Regions from separate parts of the Homo sapiens genome. Here region 2 is linked to region 1. Evidence: fine-mapped expression QTL. Tissue or cell type: tibial nerve. Region 1 holds a variant in brackets; the other region holds the start of a gene. All regions are shown on one strand. Distances are between the middles of the regions.

Evidence for each region. PIP is the estimated chance that this variant, and not a neighbour inherited with it, causes the effect.
Region 2: it holds the start of FLNC, and the variant in region 1 is fine-mapped to the expression of FLNC in tibial nerve (GTEx, PIP above 0.99). The same link has a PIP of 0.9 or more in fibroblasts, ovary, subcutaneous fat, testis, thyroid and tibial artery.

What each region holds. Positions count from the first base shown.
Region 1 is chr7:128,772,743-128,780,845 of GRCh38, forward strand. CALU (calumenin) reads left to right here. Exons shown (of 7, transcript NM_001219.5): 7 at 1-658. OPN1SW (opsin 1, short wave sensitive) reads right to left here and starts at 3,052. Exons shown (of 5, transcript NM_001385125.1): 1 at 2,697-3,052; 2 at 2,244-2,412; 3 at 1,756-1,921; 4 at 907-1,146. The coding sequence starts at 3,039. RefSeq lists cis regulatory regions at 3,038-3,605, 3,046-4,040, 3,049-8,103, 3,049-6,848, 3,049-4,148 and 1 more. The variant T/G (reference allele first, on the strand shown) is at 4,248.
Region 2 is chr7:128,826,171-128,834,273 of GRCh38, forward strand. It overlaps FLNC (filamin C), which reads left to right and starts at 4,236. Exons shown (of 48, transcript NM_001458.5): 1 at 4,236-4,819. The coding sequence starts at 4,468. RefSeq lists a silencer at 4,292-4,453 and an enhancer at 7,302-7,945.

The DNA.
Region 1 (8,103 bases):
CCTTGCACAATGCTTTGTACCCAGAATGCCCTTAGGTGGTTTTGAATCTATCTTCCCCATCCTGAAAACTATCTAGATTCCAGTCTAGAACTACTCCTGGGTCTACGGTAATCCTAAACTGGTCAAGTCTGAGACCTCACTGTTGGTAAATTCACAAACCATCCTGCTTCATAAAAGCACTGTCAGCAGAGGCCCCTCCATTACTAGCAGGTGCTCCCAGCTGGAAAGGACTGCCAATTCTCTTCTATCCAGGGAGGTTTCAAATTAGTTTTGAGTCTACCTCTGGGATTGAGGAAACAATACCATCTGAAAGTAGGGTTTTTGCCACTTAGGGTTTGGTGTTTATTAGCTCGGATTTCAGATGGGATAGGAAATCCCCCAGTACCTTCAGATGATAAGATATTTTAGAGATTTTTGCATGTGGTATGATTTCTGTGCTTCACACATGCTCGTGCAGGCTAAAAGTTGGAAGGGAAATGATTAAGAAATTATTAAATGCAAGGACTGAAAATTGAGAGGAATCTGAGTTTTTATTTTTATTTTTTTAATTTTATTTAAGTTCCAGGATACATGTGCAGGATGTGCAGGTTTGTTACATAGGTAAACGTGTGCCATGGTGGTTTGCTGCACGAGTTTTTCAATAAAATGCTTTCATTCATCCTGTTCTTTGGAGCAACTTCATTTTCCTGACTCAAGTTCTTTCCTCCGGGGTTCTATTTTCTCGTCTTGATAACCGTGCCTTCCTCCCTGTGCTTACCAAAGGCTTCCCAACCTACTCGGGGGTTTTGTGGCTTCCCTCGTCTACTAGAAACCTGGGTAGAGTCCAGGGTGCTCTGAGTTAAAAGTCAATGGTGAGAAAAGAACCAGGGTCTTCTGGACCATAGGAATGTGAATAAAGAGCTTTACCTGCTTATTCATGAAGCAGTAGATGATGGGATTGTAGATGCAAGCACTCTTGGAGAAGAATGAAGGAATGGTGACAAGCCGTAAGTCCAGCCCATGGTTACGGTTGTTGACCATGTACATGGCGAAGGCCGCGTAGGGCACGTAGCAGACACAGAAGGATCCTACCATCACAACCACCATGCGGCTCACCTCCCGTTCAGCCTTCTGGGTCGTAGCTGACTCCTGCTGCTGAGCTGCAACCTGGGGTGGAGCACGGAAAGCATCACATCTCTCTTTTTCCTGGCCCTCTGGATGCTTTTTTTTTTTTTTTTTAATTTTTAATTTTTAATTTTCTTTTTGAGACCGAGTCTCGCTCTGTTGCCCAGGCTGGAGTTGCAGTGGTGCAGTCTCGGCTCACTGAACCTCCACCTCCCGGGTTCAAGTGATTCTTTTGTCTCAGCCTCCTGAGTAGCTGGGGTTACAAGCACACACCACCATGCCCAGCTAATTTTCGCATTTTAGCATTTTGCCATGTAGGCCAGGCTGGTCTGGAACTATTGACCTCAGGTGATCCGTCTGCTTCGGCCTCCCAAAGTGCTGGGATTATAGGCGTGAGCCACTGCGCCCGGTCTCTGGATGCTTTTCTGTGGGATGGGGGAGGGGGCATCCACTCTGATTGCCTCTTTTCTGTCCCATCTCCTGGCCTAGTTCCTTTGGATCTCCATCATTCTCCCTCCTCCTACTTCCTTTGCTGCTTTTAGATACCCTCTCTGGCTATGGACATTTCCAGGCATCTTATGTTTCAGAGCACTCTTCCTTCTCATGTGGAGCCCCGAACCCCTTCTTCCCTGACTATCAAATGCCACTCACAGCTTTCAGGGCCCTCAGCAGCTGAGTGTAGGAGAAGCAGATGAGGGAGAGAGGCACAATGAAGCAGAAGATGAAGAGGAACCACGTATAGGACTCGCTGCGGTATTTGGTGCCCACGGTGTACCAGTCAGGGCCACAGGAACACTGCAGGCCCTCAGGGATGAACCTGCAAAGGACCAAACACTTGCTCACTGGACTCTCCACAAGAGTGCAGTGGGAGCTGAGATGCCTGGATTGTGTTCTCCACTTAGAACCCACGGAATGCCCTAAGGCTTCAAGCAGGGGGGTTTTCTGTCCTGACTGGGAGAAGCTACAGCAATTCCAACTGCAGAGTAAACGTTAGCACTTGTCTCCCACTGCCCTTTCGCCTCATATTGCAACTCTTTAAAAGTAGAGGTCAAAGACTAAATAGTTATACCCAAGCTCTCTTTCCACCCACATCAACCTGAGCTCCTAGTTAACTCAGCACCACTGCCCTGCACTCTCACCGGCTCCAGCCAAAGAAGGGTGGGATGGAGACGCCAATACCAATGGTCCAGGTAGCCAGGACCACCGTCAGTGCATGCTTGGAGCTGAAGCGGAAGTTGCCGAAGGGCTTACAGATGACAATGTAGCGCTCAAAGGCCAGGAAGGCCAGTGACCATCCTGTAACCAGACCTGTGGTGAAATGTGAGGATAATGGGCTAGACAGAGCCCCACCCAGCCTGGCTGGCAGAGTGGCAAACAGATCGGGTGGAGCAAGCACAGAGAGACAGGGCTGGACTGACATTTGGAGTGAAGACTCAAACATCCTATTTTAGCCAAACTTCTAGTCTGGGTTGCTTTGTACCCCAGTATTTTAAAAAGCACCAGACTCATTTCCCCCAGACTCCTCTTTAGGAACCCCCTCCAGTGGAGTAGCAACCTTTGCCTTCCCCTAACCCCTTTTTCCCCTGCAGTACCTGCTACAGTGCCCAGGAAGCCCTCCAAAGCACAAACATGGCGACCGAAGACGAAGTATCCGTTACAGCTGGCGACGAAGACAGGGAAGACAGAGAAGATGCAGAGGAGGAAGCCTCCGAAGGACACGTTGACCAGAATGTAGTTGAGGGGCTGCCGCAACTTTTTGTAGCGCAGTGTGGCCACCAGCACCATGGCATTGAGTGGGAACCCTATAAGGAAGACAGTGCCCATGAAAGCTGCCTGGAGGTAGAAGGCCCAGACAGGGGCAATGTGGTACTGAGGCCCATCCCACGGCCCCACTGAAGAGATATTTTTGAACAGATAAAACTCTTCCTCCGACATTTTTCTCATGGATGCCCCACACCCCCCTCTGAGTCCTCTTATAGGTGATCCTCCCACCCCACAAAACCCCTCCTCTAAAAACACTTGGGCTCTGTGAATGATCAATACTAATCCTAAACCTCCCAAGGACAAAGTTTGGGATTAGAAATCCCTAAACCACTACCTAAACCTTTTGTGGCCCCAAAGCCGATTGTGTTCTTCAGAGGATAAGAGATTGGGCTCAAATAATCTGGATATGCAATGCTGGGTGCTGGGATGAACAGAAGTGGACTCCCTGAGGTCTGGGAGGTGCTGACCCATATTCACTGAAGATGCTTCCACTTTTTTGTTCTTTTAATGGGGCTATAGAAAGGGCACGCCTCTTATTTTGGCTTCTGGCACAACTGTATCAGTTAAGTTTTCCTCAACTCATCTGCCCCTTTGTGGAAGGTGCCCATCTTAAGTCTGCTGAGAGGCTAGGAACCAGCCCTGGGCTGCAGGAAAGGGCTGGGAGTGGGGAGTGCCCTGGAAGCACATCAGTAAACAGCCTTGATGGAACAGGACTTAGGCAACTTGACAATGCCTAGAGGTCTAGGGCATCCCTGAGCCAGGCTGCCTCCATTTCTTTGTGTTGAATCTACTCAAAGAGTGTGCCTTTCCTACTCAGACCTCCAGCCAGGGAGGTGGGTCTGTTCACTGTCCTTACGCCATGTTCATGCCTACCCCTACCCTTAGCTCAACAAGTCGCCACAGTCTTCCTCCTGTCTGTTCATTGAAGTCTTATCTAGCCCTCACAGCCTACCTCACAAACACCTCTTCTGTGCAGCCCACCCCAGTGACACCAACTCTGCTTTAAGTTCCACCTGCACTTGTACTCAGTACTACACTTTAGGCTTTATGAATGAATCTTTTCCACCTCAGCAGATCATAAATATATAGATGAGTTGGCCGGGCGTGGTGGCTCAAGCCTGTAATCCCAGCACTTTGGGAGGCTGAGATGGGTGGATCACAAGGTCAGGAGATCGAGACCATCCTGGCTAACGGTGAAACCCCGTCTCTACTAAAAATACAAAAAATTAGCTGGGTGTGGTGGTGGGCGCCTGTAGTCCCAGCTACTTGGGAGGCTGAGGCAGGAGAATGGCGTGAACCCGGGAGGCGGAGCCTGCAGTGAGCCGAGATCACGCCACTGCACTCCAGCCTGTGGGACAGAGCGAGACTATATATATAGA[T/G]GAGTTAAAAGTGACACACTTTAGGTATAAGTAAGTTTAAAAGTGAAAGGATGGTCCAGTAATGGCAGAATAGTTTATTAGATGAATGCCCCCTTAGGCAAAAAAATTGTAAACTGGACACAATATGAAAAACAACTTTTTGAAAACACCTAAAGTATCCAAAGCAGGCAGAAACTGAAAGGAACTCAACTCTTCAATGAAAAGAACCATCTACATTGTTGTTTTTTTTTTTCCCTGAGTGTACTCCCGAGTATAAATGGCACAGGATAGCTAGAACTTGAGCAGAAAGCCCCAGCCTTTTTTGGCTTGAAGAGTCAGAGGACAGAGGACAGGAGACAGAGGACAGTTTGGGACTCCAGAACAGCTGAAGGTGGATTTCCTGGAATGAAAGAAGCCACAGAAGGCAAAGTCTTTAAATCTGCATATAAACTCCCCTCAAATCATAGGCTGACTGCTGAACTGTGGATGGAGGAATTTCCAAGAGCCCAGTAAAAGACAACCACTGGAGGTCTGAAAGAGCTAAGCAGATTTTGACTGTTACCCACTGTAGCAGAGAAAGAGTTTGAATTTGAATCCCAAGTCAGAGGGTCTGGGTAAACACTTAGGGCTTTCTACTTGAAACTCCCAAAAGGCCACACCATAGAGCTAAAATCTATATCCCAGGACTAAATATTTGTTCTGAGAGTAAGGTCAAAGCCAAAGCTGACTCATACTAGCAAAAGATAAAACCAAGCCTCAGCGGGTTCAAGGTGATCAACTAGTAAGTTAATTGCTTATTAGAACAAAAATCAACACCCCTCAATGGAAGATAACCCAGTTTCTAAAGTTCACTATCTACAATGTCTAATATACAATGAAAAATTAAAAGGCGTGTGAAAGAAAAAAAAAACCCACAGGAAAATATGAGTCATAGCCAAAAGAAAAAGCAAGCAATAGAAACAGAACCTGAGATGACCCAAGAAGTTGGCACCAGCAGGAAAAACTTCAAACAGCGATATAAATATATTCAAGAACTGGAAGGAAAAAAATGATCATCGTGAGTTAATGGATCTCAGCAGAAGAATGGGAAAAATAAAATAGCCAAATGGAAATTCCAGAACTGAAAACTACAACATGTCAAATGAAGAATTTACTAGATGGCTGAACAGCAGATTGGACAGCAGAAGAAAGGATCAGTGAACTTACAGATAGATCAATAACAAAAAGATATCTGGAAAATCCCCCAAACACTTATGAATAAGCAATATACATCTAAATATCCTGTGAGTCAAAAGAGAAATCATAAGGAAAAACTGAAAGAATTTCAGCTGAATAACAACAAAAAAGTATTAGAAATTGAAGGAGTCAGCTAAAGCAGTACTTAGAGAAAAATTTATAGCTTTAAGTATTTATACTAGACAATAAATGTTTAAAATTTAAACTTTCACCTTGAGAAGCTGAAAGGGTGAATCAAATCTAAAATAAATAGGGGCAGATACTAAAAAGCAGAGCAGAAAACATTGAAATTAAAAATGAATAAAGAATGGAGAAAAATCAATGAAACCTGAAGCAAAACAAAATAGTTCTCTCCTGTCTCCAGCATCTCCTCAGTAGGATCTGAGCCAATCTCAGGTCACTGCAACCTCCATCTCCTGGGTTCAAGTGATTCTCTTGCCTCAGTCTCCCATGTAGCTGGGATTACAGGTCTGTGCCACCATGCCCAGCTAATTTTTGCATTTTTAGTAGAGACAGGGTTTCACCATTTTGGCCAGGCTGTTCTCAAACTCCTGACCTCAGGTGATCTGACCACCTCGGCCTCCCGAAGTGCTGGGATTACAGGCATGAGCCACTGTGCCCAGCTGACTTAATTATTTCCGAAAGACCGCCACTCTCATGTGCATGCGCACACATGCACATCCCACACAAACACTCGGCCGCAGGTGGGAGTCCTGGTGGAGGTTACTGGGGAGAGCCAGCTAAGGGTCCAGTCAGATTGCCTGAGTCATGGGGGGAACAGGGTGGGAGGGCACTGTCTGGGAAGGTGTGAGGACAGTATTAGGAGGGGCCAAAGATGTGGCCACCTAGCCTTGTACAGATGAGCAGAGCTGCTCATCCGTTGCCCTGGGCAGGACTTCAGGACCAGGGCCAGAGGTCACCTTAAGGTGCCTATCCCTGAGCAGGGCACATGGACTGTGTGTGAGCCTGGCCTGCGTGGAACAAGCCAGCCTCCACTGTCCGCTGGGCTCTGCTGAGGTGCCCACCTCTGCAAACATTTCTGATGGGAGGCTAAATGGCGAGGGTGCAAGACACCCCGGGCCCTTTTACATCCAGTGTACAAGGCTAGGTGGCCACATCTTTGGCCCCTCCTAATACTGTCCTCACGCCTTCCCAGACAGTGCCCTCCCACCCTGTTCCCCCAACAGCAGAGGGAGACAATGGGCCCAAGCTGGAGGCAACCCAATCCCTGAGGGGCTCAGACCAAAAAGAGCCTCACCCAAGCGCAAAGTCTTACCGGTGCTCAAGCCATGGACAAAAATTCTCCAAAGTCATGGAGGCCACGGAGTAGGAGGAGGCAAGCTTCTGAGGAAGGGGCATGGGGTAAAGGAGGAAGAGAAAATAGAAAAACTGGAGGCAGACTGGGCACGGTGGCTCACACCTGTAATCCCACCACTTTTGGAGGCCAAGGTGGGCAGATCACTTGAGGTCAGGTGTTCACCAACCTGGCCAACATGGTGAAACCCTGTCTCTACCAAAAAATACAAAAATTTGCTGGGCATGGTGGCGCACTCCTGTATAGTCCCAGCTATTTGGGAGGCTGAGGTAGGAGAATCGCTTGAACCCAGGAGGCAGAGGTTGCGGTGAGCTGAGATTGTGCTGCTGCCCTCCAGCCTGGGCAACAGAGCGGGACTGTGTCTCAAAACCAAAAAACAAAATAAAATAAAAAATAAAAACTAGAGGCATCTTAAGTGCATTTAGTTATACAGTGCTCTTCCCAGGCTGAAAATCACCTTATTAATTTAGAACATGTTAATACACTAAGGCTTTACAGAAGATCACATGAAATACACTTAGACCAGGATTTCTCAACGTTGGCACTATTGACATTGCAGATAATTCTTTGTCTGGGGGCTGTCCTGTGCATTGTAGGATGTTGAACAGTGTCCCTCTCCTCTAGATGCCAAAATCAACACTACCAGCCCAGTCATGATAACCAAAAATGTCTCCCGACATTGTCAAATGCCTCCTGAGAGACAAAACCCTTCCCCACTCCCCTCCCCTCCAGCTGAGATCCAACCATTGATTTAGATTTAGACTTACAAATGCTCAGAACCCAATATAATACAATCAAGTGAAAATTTGTTTTTCCATATATATATGTGTGTGGCCGCATATATATATGGCCAGGCGCAGTGGCTCACGCCTGTAATCCCAGCACTTTGGGAGGCCGAGGCAGGTGGATTACCTGAGGTCAGGAGTTCAAGACCAGCCTGGCCAACATAGTGAAACCCCGTCTCTACTAAAAATACAAAAATTAGCTGGGCATGGTGACACATGCCTGTAATCCAAGCTACTGAAAGGCTGAGGCAGGAGAATTGCTTGAGCCCAGGAGACGGAGGTTGCAGTGAGCCGAGATCTCACCACTGCACTCCAGCCTGGCGGACAGAGTGAGACTCTATCTCAAAAAAAAAAAAAAAAAAAAAAAGGAAGAAGAATATTCAGAGAAAAAGAAGTTTCCTTTCCACCCAGCCTCCCAACTACTCAGTTACCTTCTCAGAGGCAACCAGTGGTAGCTTCTTGCTGTTTTTTATATATATAGGAGGTGACAGTGAGCTTGAGATGATGTGTGTGACAATGTTGTCTGTTAAATACTAACCCA
Region 2 (8,103 bases), 53 kb after region 1:
GACTCCGTCTTTAAAAAAAAAATGTGGAGTTAAAGAATGTGTATAATGTGCACACAGGGACATAGAATGTGAACTGATGGACATTGGAGACTTTGGAGCGGCGAGGGGTAGGGGGGCGGTCGGGGCATGGGGCGAGGGGAGGGATGAGAAATTACTTAATGGGTACAATGTACATTATTTGGGTGATGTTACACTAGAAGCCCAGACTTCACACTAAGCAATATATCCATGTATCAAAACTGCACTTGCACCCTCTAAATTTATACCAAAAAAAAAAAAGACAGGAGGGATTGATCTTAAGTCTGGAGGGGTATGCCTTGGAAGCCACAGGCAGGCGTGCACTTGGGCCTAGGTGTGCTAGAACCAGGGACTCAAAGCACCTTCAGGAGCCTCCATCTCTCCCCGCTGCTGCCCTCTGCATAACTGCCTCCTTTCTGTGAGCTCCCTGCAGCCTAGCCCTGTCTGGTTTCCCTTCCCAGGCCAAGAGGTAGAGCAGCCACCCGCTGCCACTCCTGTCAAGGACCAGCTGCTTTTGGGGCAGGGTGGGTGGTTCTAAAGATGACAGGTACTGCCGGTTCTGATTGTGGCAGAGGGAATGTTGGGTTGCAGGGAAGGGGAGAGGGGAACAGCCTGGAGATCCAGGCAGTGGTCCCCACGGAGGTGTGGACACAGAGCTGCAGGGGAAGGCCTCTCTCACCAGAACCCCTTAGTCTCCAAGATAATCAGAGGAAGCAAACTAATTGTTTTGGATCACCTATTAGATGCCAGGCACCATGCTAATCATCTTTCTTGTGATTTCCTTCCATTTTCACACATTAAAAAAAAAAAAAGACGAGAAAACAGGCCCAAAAGAGCTACATTACTTGCCCAAGGTTGCAGAGCTAGAAGTAGAGAGGCTGGAATTCAGCCCATGGATCATTCCACTCTACCACACTGTCCCTGGAACCTGGGTCAGAGCCACAGTCAGTATCAGTATCACTGAAAGTGCCTGTTATGACCTGGCCAGCCCAGTATCATCACAGGTGACTGTGGAAATGTCCCTGGTTCCAGAAAAACAGGATTTTCAAACATGGCTCATTGTATCCGCTCACTTGGATTCAGCTCAGCCCAAGATAAATATGGCCAGTATTGGTGGCTGATGAGCAGAGCCCCTTGACGGCAGAGGCAGGACCAGGTGAAGAGCCAGGCAACCTGGTCTCCTGAGATAGGTCAGCAGGTGGTGAGTCAGGGGGCTATAAACAGCCTGTGGCCCCAGCCAGCACTGCCCAGATACTCAGCTGATGAAACCCCTTGTAACCCCCTGTGTGCCCCTGCCTGGCTTGGGGAGGAGCATGTCAGCGCTCCTCGGGGAGGGGGCCCTACTTGGCAGGCCGGGCCCAGCATTGTGCACGGTCTGTTCCAGCCTGGCTGGCCAGGCCCAGGGCCTGGGCTCATGGGCTATATTGAGGGCTGAGTCACCAGCCCGCGCCTGGGTCAGGCTGAGTGTCACTGGCTGCTGGGGCCTGAGTCAGGCCCCGATTTATCCTGGAGAGCAACAGGCTCAGGTTTCTGAGGACGGTTGCGGGGGGTGACGGGAATCATCCTTTGGCACTCTGTACCCTCCTCTCCTCTGCCAACCATTCACTTGATCCCCTGGGACCCGCACACTGACCTCCCCTGGAGCGAGCTCTTGAGTCAGAGGGAAAGCAAGGGAAGCTACGCTGGGAGTTCCTTCTCCCCTCCCTGGCTTCCTCCGGCCTCTCCACCTGAACAGAGGCGCTCAGCTGGCTGGGGGACCTCAGATAATGCCTGCAAAACAGGACTGTGGACCATTAGGGTCTGTAAAGGGGCTGTCAGCTCCGAGCTACCTCACCTTAACCCTTTCTCCTCCCCAGCAGCTCAAAGAGGAATGCATCCTTTCTCAGATCTGTGTCTCAGTTTACTCACCAGGGATTCAGAGGCAGCACTGCTGAACCCTGAGCCCTTGGCACATCAGGTTGGCTGTCAGAAGTCGGCCTTTGTACATACACAGTTCCCTTGTGAGGCCCAGCTGCGTGTCCTAGGAGCGGGGCCTCTCTCCACAGCAGAGCTCAGCCTCTCAAGTGTATGGACAGCACGGGTGCCTGATGGGTGGATTTAGCCATGAGTTGAAGGTGGCTTGGGGAGAATGAGAGTTCTAGAGATAGGGAGAAGGGGTTGCCAATAGGAGAGTGGAATTCCTGAGCACCTCGTCACAGGCAGCCGACAGAACATGAGCCGCAGGGCCCAGGCTATTTATACCTCGCCTGTCACTATCAGGGTCCCCACAGCTCCCCCCACCTCCAGCCACACACAGCAGGTCCTTTTGCTCTTTCTGGTCCCTTCTCTACTCCTCCCCCTCCCTACCTAAGGACCAGGCAATTTCATTCATAGACCCCTGTCATCATAAGCATTGCCCCCACAGAACCCTGACACTTTTTCCTCAGCTCCGTAACAGGGGGTGCCCTCATTGGCCCTTGGGGGAAAGAGCCCCCAAAGATGCTCACTATCCCTTCTTTTACACCAGGTCTAGGGGTAGAAGAGGAATTAGATATAATGATTCATCTAAAAGGGCCCAGAACCTTCCCTGGCTTAAAGAAACTTCTCAGGCTCAGATATGGCCTCCTAGCCAGCTCAGCTAGACTTACTAGGTCTAGAAGGATGGGAAAGCTGAAGACACATGGCTTGAAAAAGGGGGAACTGGGAGATATGGCTGCACGTATGTTACAAAGTTGCAGAATGGATCCTCTCCTTATAGAAATACATTCTCTAGGCCCAGCACGGTGGCTCACGCCTGTAATCCCAGCACTTTGGGAGGCTGAGGCGTGCAGATCACCTGAGGTCGGGAGTTCGAGACCAGCCTGACCAACATGGAGAAACCCCGTTTCTACTAAAAATACAAAATTAGCTGGGCGTGGTGGTGCATGCCTGTAATCCCAGCTATTTGGGAGGCTAAGGCAGGAGAATTGCTTGAACCTGGGAGACAGAGGTTGCGGTGAGCAGAGATCATGCCATTGCACTCCAGCCTGGGTAACAAGAGCAAAACTCCATCTCAAAAAAAAAAAAAAAAAAAAAAGAAAAAAGAAAAAGAAATACGTTCTCTAGCTCTTTCTCCTCACCCCAGGCCAGAGTCTGTTTGGGTGCCTCGGTTTCCCTGCTGTTCTATTCCCCAGGCCTGCAGCCTTTGGCTTGCCCTGAGTGCAGCTTTGCCTGGGCATCCCAGCTGGCTCCCTTAGGCTCTCCCTGACCACTCTGCCCCTGGTCCTGCCTACCCACCTGGTCACATTTCCCCCTGGCTGCTCTGGCTGGGGCTCTCCCTGTTTCTGCCTGGCTGACCCACCCTTTCCCTGGCAGGATCTGCCCTGTGGCCCAAATGGGCATGTTGCCCAGGGGGCTCCCTGGCACTATGGGGGAAGAGTCTCTCCTTCCCCTCTTATCATCTCAGTTGAGTCAGACTTGGGGGAGGGGGATACACAGTGTGAGTCACTGGGTACCCTTTTCCTGAGCTCAGCTTCATACCGAGGCGATGAGGCCAAACGGGCTGGTGACAGGGACACTGAGTCAGGGGCAGGGGCCCCGGTCTTACTCCTGGGCCTCTGGATTTGGGCCCTACATGAGGCTTTTCTATCTGTAAAGTCAAGCAATGGCTGGGAGGCACACACAACCCCCCGCCCCCCCGCAGGCTTCTCCTTCATTGGCCCGGGCAAGGTCCCTGCTTCCTCTCAGGCCGTCTCTGCACAAGCACACACACTTCCCTTCCCTGTCCACAGGTGGACAATGCCCTGGGCTAGGAGCCAGCCCTCGCAGGCCCTGTCAACAGCCTGCCACCAACTAGTCTAGAAAATTCTGTGAACACCAGATCAGTGGGTTTTGCCCTAATCACTGGCCTCAGTTTCCCCATTTACCTCTTCAGCCCGTGCGGGGTGTGGAGGGAGCATATTTCATTCCTGACAGTTTGGTGTGTTGGGTGTGGATGGAGAACTGTCGGCCCTCCCCGCCACCTTCCAGCGCGGCGGCACCGGGGGCCCAGGGGGTGGGCGCCCTCAACCCCGTCCCGCCGCCCGGGCGGCGCGGGGGAGGGGCGGCGGGGGCGGGGCGTCCTGTGCGGCGCGGCCCCCACCCGCGGGCCGGGCGGCATTCCTGGGAGGCCGGCGCTCTGACGTGGACCCGGGGGCCGCGGGCGCGGCGGGGGGGCGGCGGTCCGGGGGCTTCTTAAACCCCCCGCCCCGGCCCAGCCCGCCCTTCCCGAGCACCGCTCCGGCCCTGGAGGGAGAGAGAGCCAGAGAGCGGCCGAGCGCCTAGGAGGCCCGCCGAGCCTCGCCGAGCCCCGCCAGCCCCGGCGCGAGAGAAGTTGGAGAGGAGAGCAGCGCAGCGCAGCGAGTCCCGTGGTCGCGCCCCAACAGCGCCCGACAGCCCCCGATAGCCCAAACCGCGGCCCTAGCCCCGGCCGCACCCCCAGCCCGCGCCAGCATGATGAACAACAGCGGCTACTCAGACGCCGGCCTCGGCCTGGGCGATGAGACAGACGAGATGCCGTCCACGGAGAAGGACCTGGCGGAGGACGCGCCGTGGAAGAAGATCCAGCAGAACACATTCACGCGCTGGTGCAATGAGCACCTCAAGTGCGTGGGCAAGCGCCTGACCGACCTGCAGCGCGACCTCAGCGACGGGCTCCGGCTCATCGCGCTGCTCGAGGTGCTCAGCCAGAAGCGCATGTACCGCAAGTTCCATCCGCGCCCCAACTTCCGCCAAATGAAGCTGGAGAACGTGTCCGTGGCCCTCGAGTTCCTCGAGCGCGAGCACATCAAGCTCGTGTCCATAGGTCAGTGCCGGGGGCGAGGGCACGGGCGCTGCGGGGATAGGGTCGTCCCATGGGGCAGGGGCACAGGTGCGGGGTGGGCGCGCGGGGAGCTGAGAGACAGGGCGGAGGGCACCCCCCGGTATAGAGAGAAGACCCTGGCCCCGGCCCTCCCACCCATCGACAAGGGCCATGGGCACTGCCTGCACACCCCTCTGGGGACAGCGAGCACTCCCTGGGTGCCCCGGGGAGTCCAGGCCTTAGGGTTTGCGAGCCCTCCAGCTGCCGCCTCCCCATGCACATTCCCACCTCCCGCCTCGGCTCACCGTTCCCTTTCCTTCCATCGGGCAACCCTAGCCCACACTCGGGAGGACAGAACCAGTGCCTGTCACTGATTCCTGGGGGCATCTCCCCGCCCCCAACAAAACAAGTGGCTTCCCAGCTTCACAGCCCCTCCGCGGGCTGGGAGAGGGCTGAAGACAGGTCCCCAACCACTGCCCGCGTCTGCGGGCTCTGGGGCCGAGGGGAGCTGGCGCGGGAGGCCCTCTTCGTGCATGTGCTCAGCAGCTGGGTTCAGGCCCGGGGGCCAGGACAGGCAGGGCCCAGCCTCAGAAACCTAAAAAGGCACTGAGCGAGCGCGGGGAGACTTAACCCCTGTCTGTCCTCCTCCTGCTTCAGCCTGCGGTGGAGGGGGCTTCCGCAAGTCCAGGCCCTGCCCCAGCCCACCCCCTACCGCGGGATTGGCTGCAGCTAACGGTCTGGGCTGCGGGGAGGGAGGGAAAGGCCTGTGGAAGGGAGGAAGTCTTTGAGTGTAACCAGATTTGGAAGGTGTGTAGTGCAGGGTGGGGGCGGGGAGGCACTCTAGTCTTGGGAGCAGAGACGCCAAGGGTGGGCTTGGAGTGGCAGGAGGCTGTCCTGCCCTCAGAGTCCTGCAGTCATCCCTGAGGCTGGGGGCCTGGGGAAGATCCCCCCGCCCACCCCTGTGGAGAGCTCTTAAGAACCCTGCTGGGATTTGCAGGACGAGGTCCTTGGACGGTGCACCCCACGGCCCCAGGAGGGGAGTTTCATGTGGGGCCAGGTGGGCCCCACACAGGATGTTCCCTGAGATTTCTCCAGATGACTTGATGTCTGTCAGCCCCACTCTCCCTTGGGGCCATCTCTAGGCCTCCTGATATAGCAGCTGAGGTCAGCCCAGGGCCCTTTGCCCCGTCCAGTCCCCTCCCTAGCCCTTACCCCCTCCTGCCCCAATACTGCCCCCCCACCCCACCCGCCTGCCCTGTCCTGGAAATAGCCCTGCCTCCGTGACACAGCAGATGTCTCTGAGCTTTCCAGAAGGACAAGGCTGAGGGCAGGGGGTGGGGGAGGGAGCCTGGAGTGTGTAGTGAGACTGAGGGCTACGTGATGGAGGCTGAGGGGTCAGAGAGGAGTCAGTCCTGGGCCGGCATCCTCAGCAGGCTGGGTTTTGAAAGGCAGGACTGACTGTACCAGGTGGGGTCTGGGGGAAGAGCCGGAGGCTTCGGCAAGACATATAGGAAACCGCTCAGCCTTCCCCTCCCCTCCAGTCTGCGGGGGCTCTCGGCCCCTCTCCAGGCCTCGTCCTTCCTGAGCACACCTCTCCCCTCCCCCGTGGCGGTGCCTGGCTCCAGCCCCCTTGGCTCAGCAGAGGAGGGGCTGGCTCAGAGCAGAGGGGAAGAAGCAAAAGCTGGTTTGAGGGTGGGAGGGAAGCTCCCTGGTTCCCGCTGGGAGGAAGGGGAGGCAGTCCCCATTTGGGCCAAGTGGCTCACTGGCGCTGATGAGATAAGCTGTCAGCAATTCAGCTGCCGGCCCCAGGCTGAGGCTGGAGGGGAGGGGACACCGGCAGCGACCAGCTGGGGCGCCCCACCATGAGGAGGTTCAAAGGGGCTGCCCACGAGGCAGGGGCATCCTGCTTCTGCTAGCTCCCCTACTCCATTTAGTGGTGGAAAGGGGCTATCCATGGGGCCACCTTCTGAGTATTGTCTCAGCACCGAAATCGAGCATCTGGGCACCTCAGGGGGTGTCAGAAAGACTCCCCACTTCTCTTTCCAGGAGGGAAGTCAGGGTCTGGAGTAGCAGCTGGGATCCAAGCCCACCTGAAGAAGGGGCACTGAGCCCAGGTTAAAGGAGCTGTGCCCTTCATATCCTCACCACCTTGTCCTGGCCCCCCGTTGCCCCTCGTTCCCTCCGAACAAAGAGGCCTATGAGGCAGCTCTGTCTCGCAGCTGTTCCCCAGTTGCTATTCCTTCTCCTGGAGCCAACAACCAAGGGAGGGGCGGGAGGGGGCAGCAGCTGTCCCAGCACCTCCCTAGGCCCAGCCCTCTCCTCCCCCTCCATTTGAGGCCTGGGGTGGCCTCGGGAACTAGCTGTCTGGCTCCTCCCACTCCTTTGGGGGTATCCCTAGGCAGATGGAGAAGTGGCTTGGTGAGCCCTGGTGGCGCTGAGCTCCTCTCCTCTGCCTGGCCTCCGAGAGGGAGGAGGGAGAGGGAGGTCATTGCTTCCAGAGTGGGACTTGGGGCCCCACTGCCCTTCTCCTGCCCCAAGCCTGGACCACTTGCTGTCTGGCCCAGGGCCAGTTGCTGGGGAGAAACTTCCCTCTCCAGCAAATATGAATGACCACCCTCCCCATATACACACCGCCCCCCCCAACCCCTGCAGCCTCAAGGCTTCCTGCCCAGGGGTCTGGCTCCAGTTTGCAAGAAGTACTTCTGGGCGTGTGAGCTTTGGAGGCTGTCGGGGTTGTGAGAGGCTGGGGGCACTGGGGCATCCAGACTGTGTGAAAGTGTTGGAGCCTGTGTGTTTGAGAGAAAGCACCGGGAGGCAGGGAGTGAGTGTGTCATGGAATCTGAAAGCTGCCAAACCATTGTGCTGCAGTGGAGCCAGGGGAAGGGGGTGGGCTGGGGAGCTGCTGGGGAAGGAAGGATGAATCAGTGACAGGGTGGGGGAGCCCAGGCGGCCAGAGCCCCAGCCAGAGGGACAGGGAGACTGAGGCACCCCTCCCGGGGCAGGTGGGAGTGGGGCAGGGGATGCCCTGGATTTCCCAGGCTCTCGGTCTCCTAACACTTTCCCCAAGACCTGGGGAAGGGTGGAGGGGAGAAGATGTGTAAGGGGAAGGCTCCACTCCACCCTCTCCCATCTCTCGGGCAACATCAGTAAACAAGACTGTCTTCCACCCCCTTCCAGCCTCCTGAAAGCAGTGCTTTGGGAAGCTGATAGATTTCAGAACTTCATTGCCCTTTACAAGTAAGCTGAATTCCAAAGATCTATCTACATGCTAGGCCACCCCAGGCTTC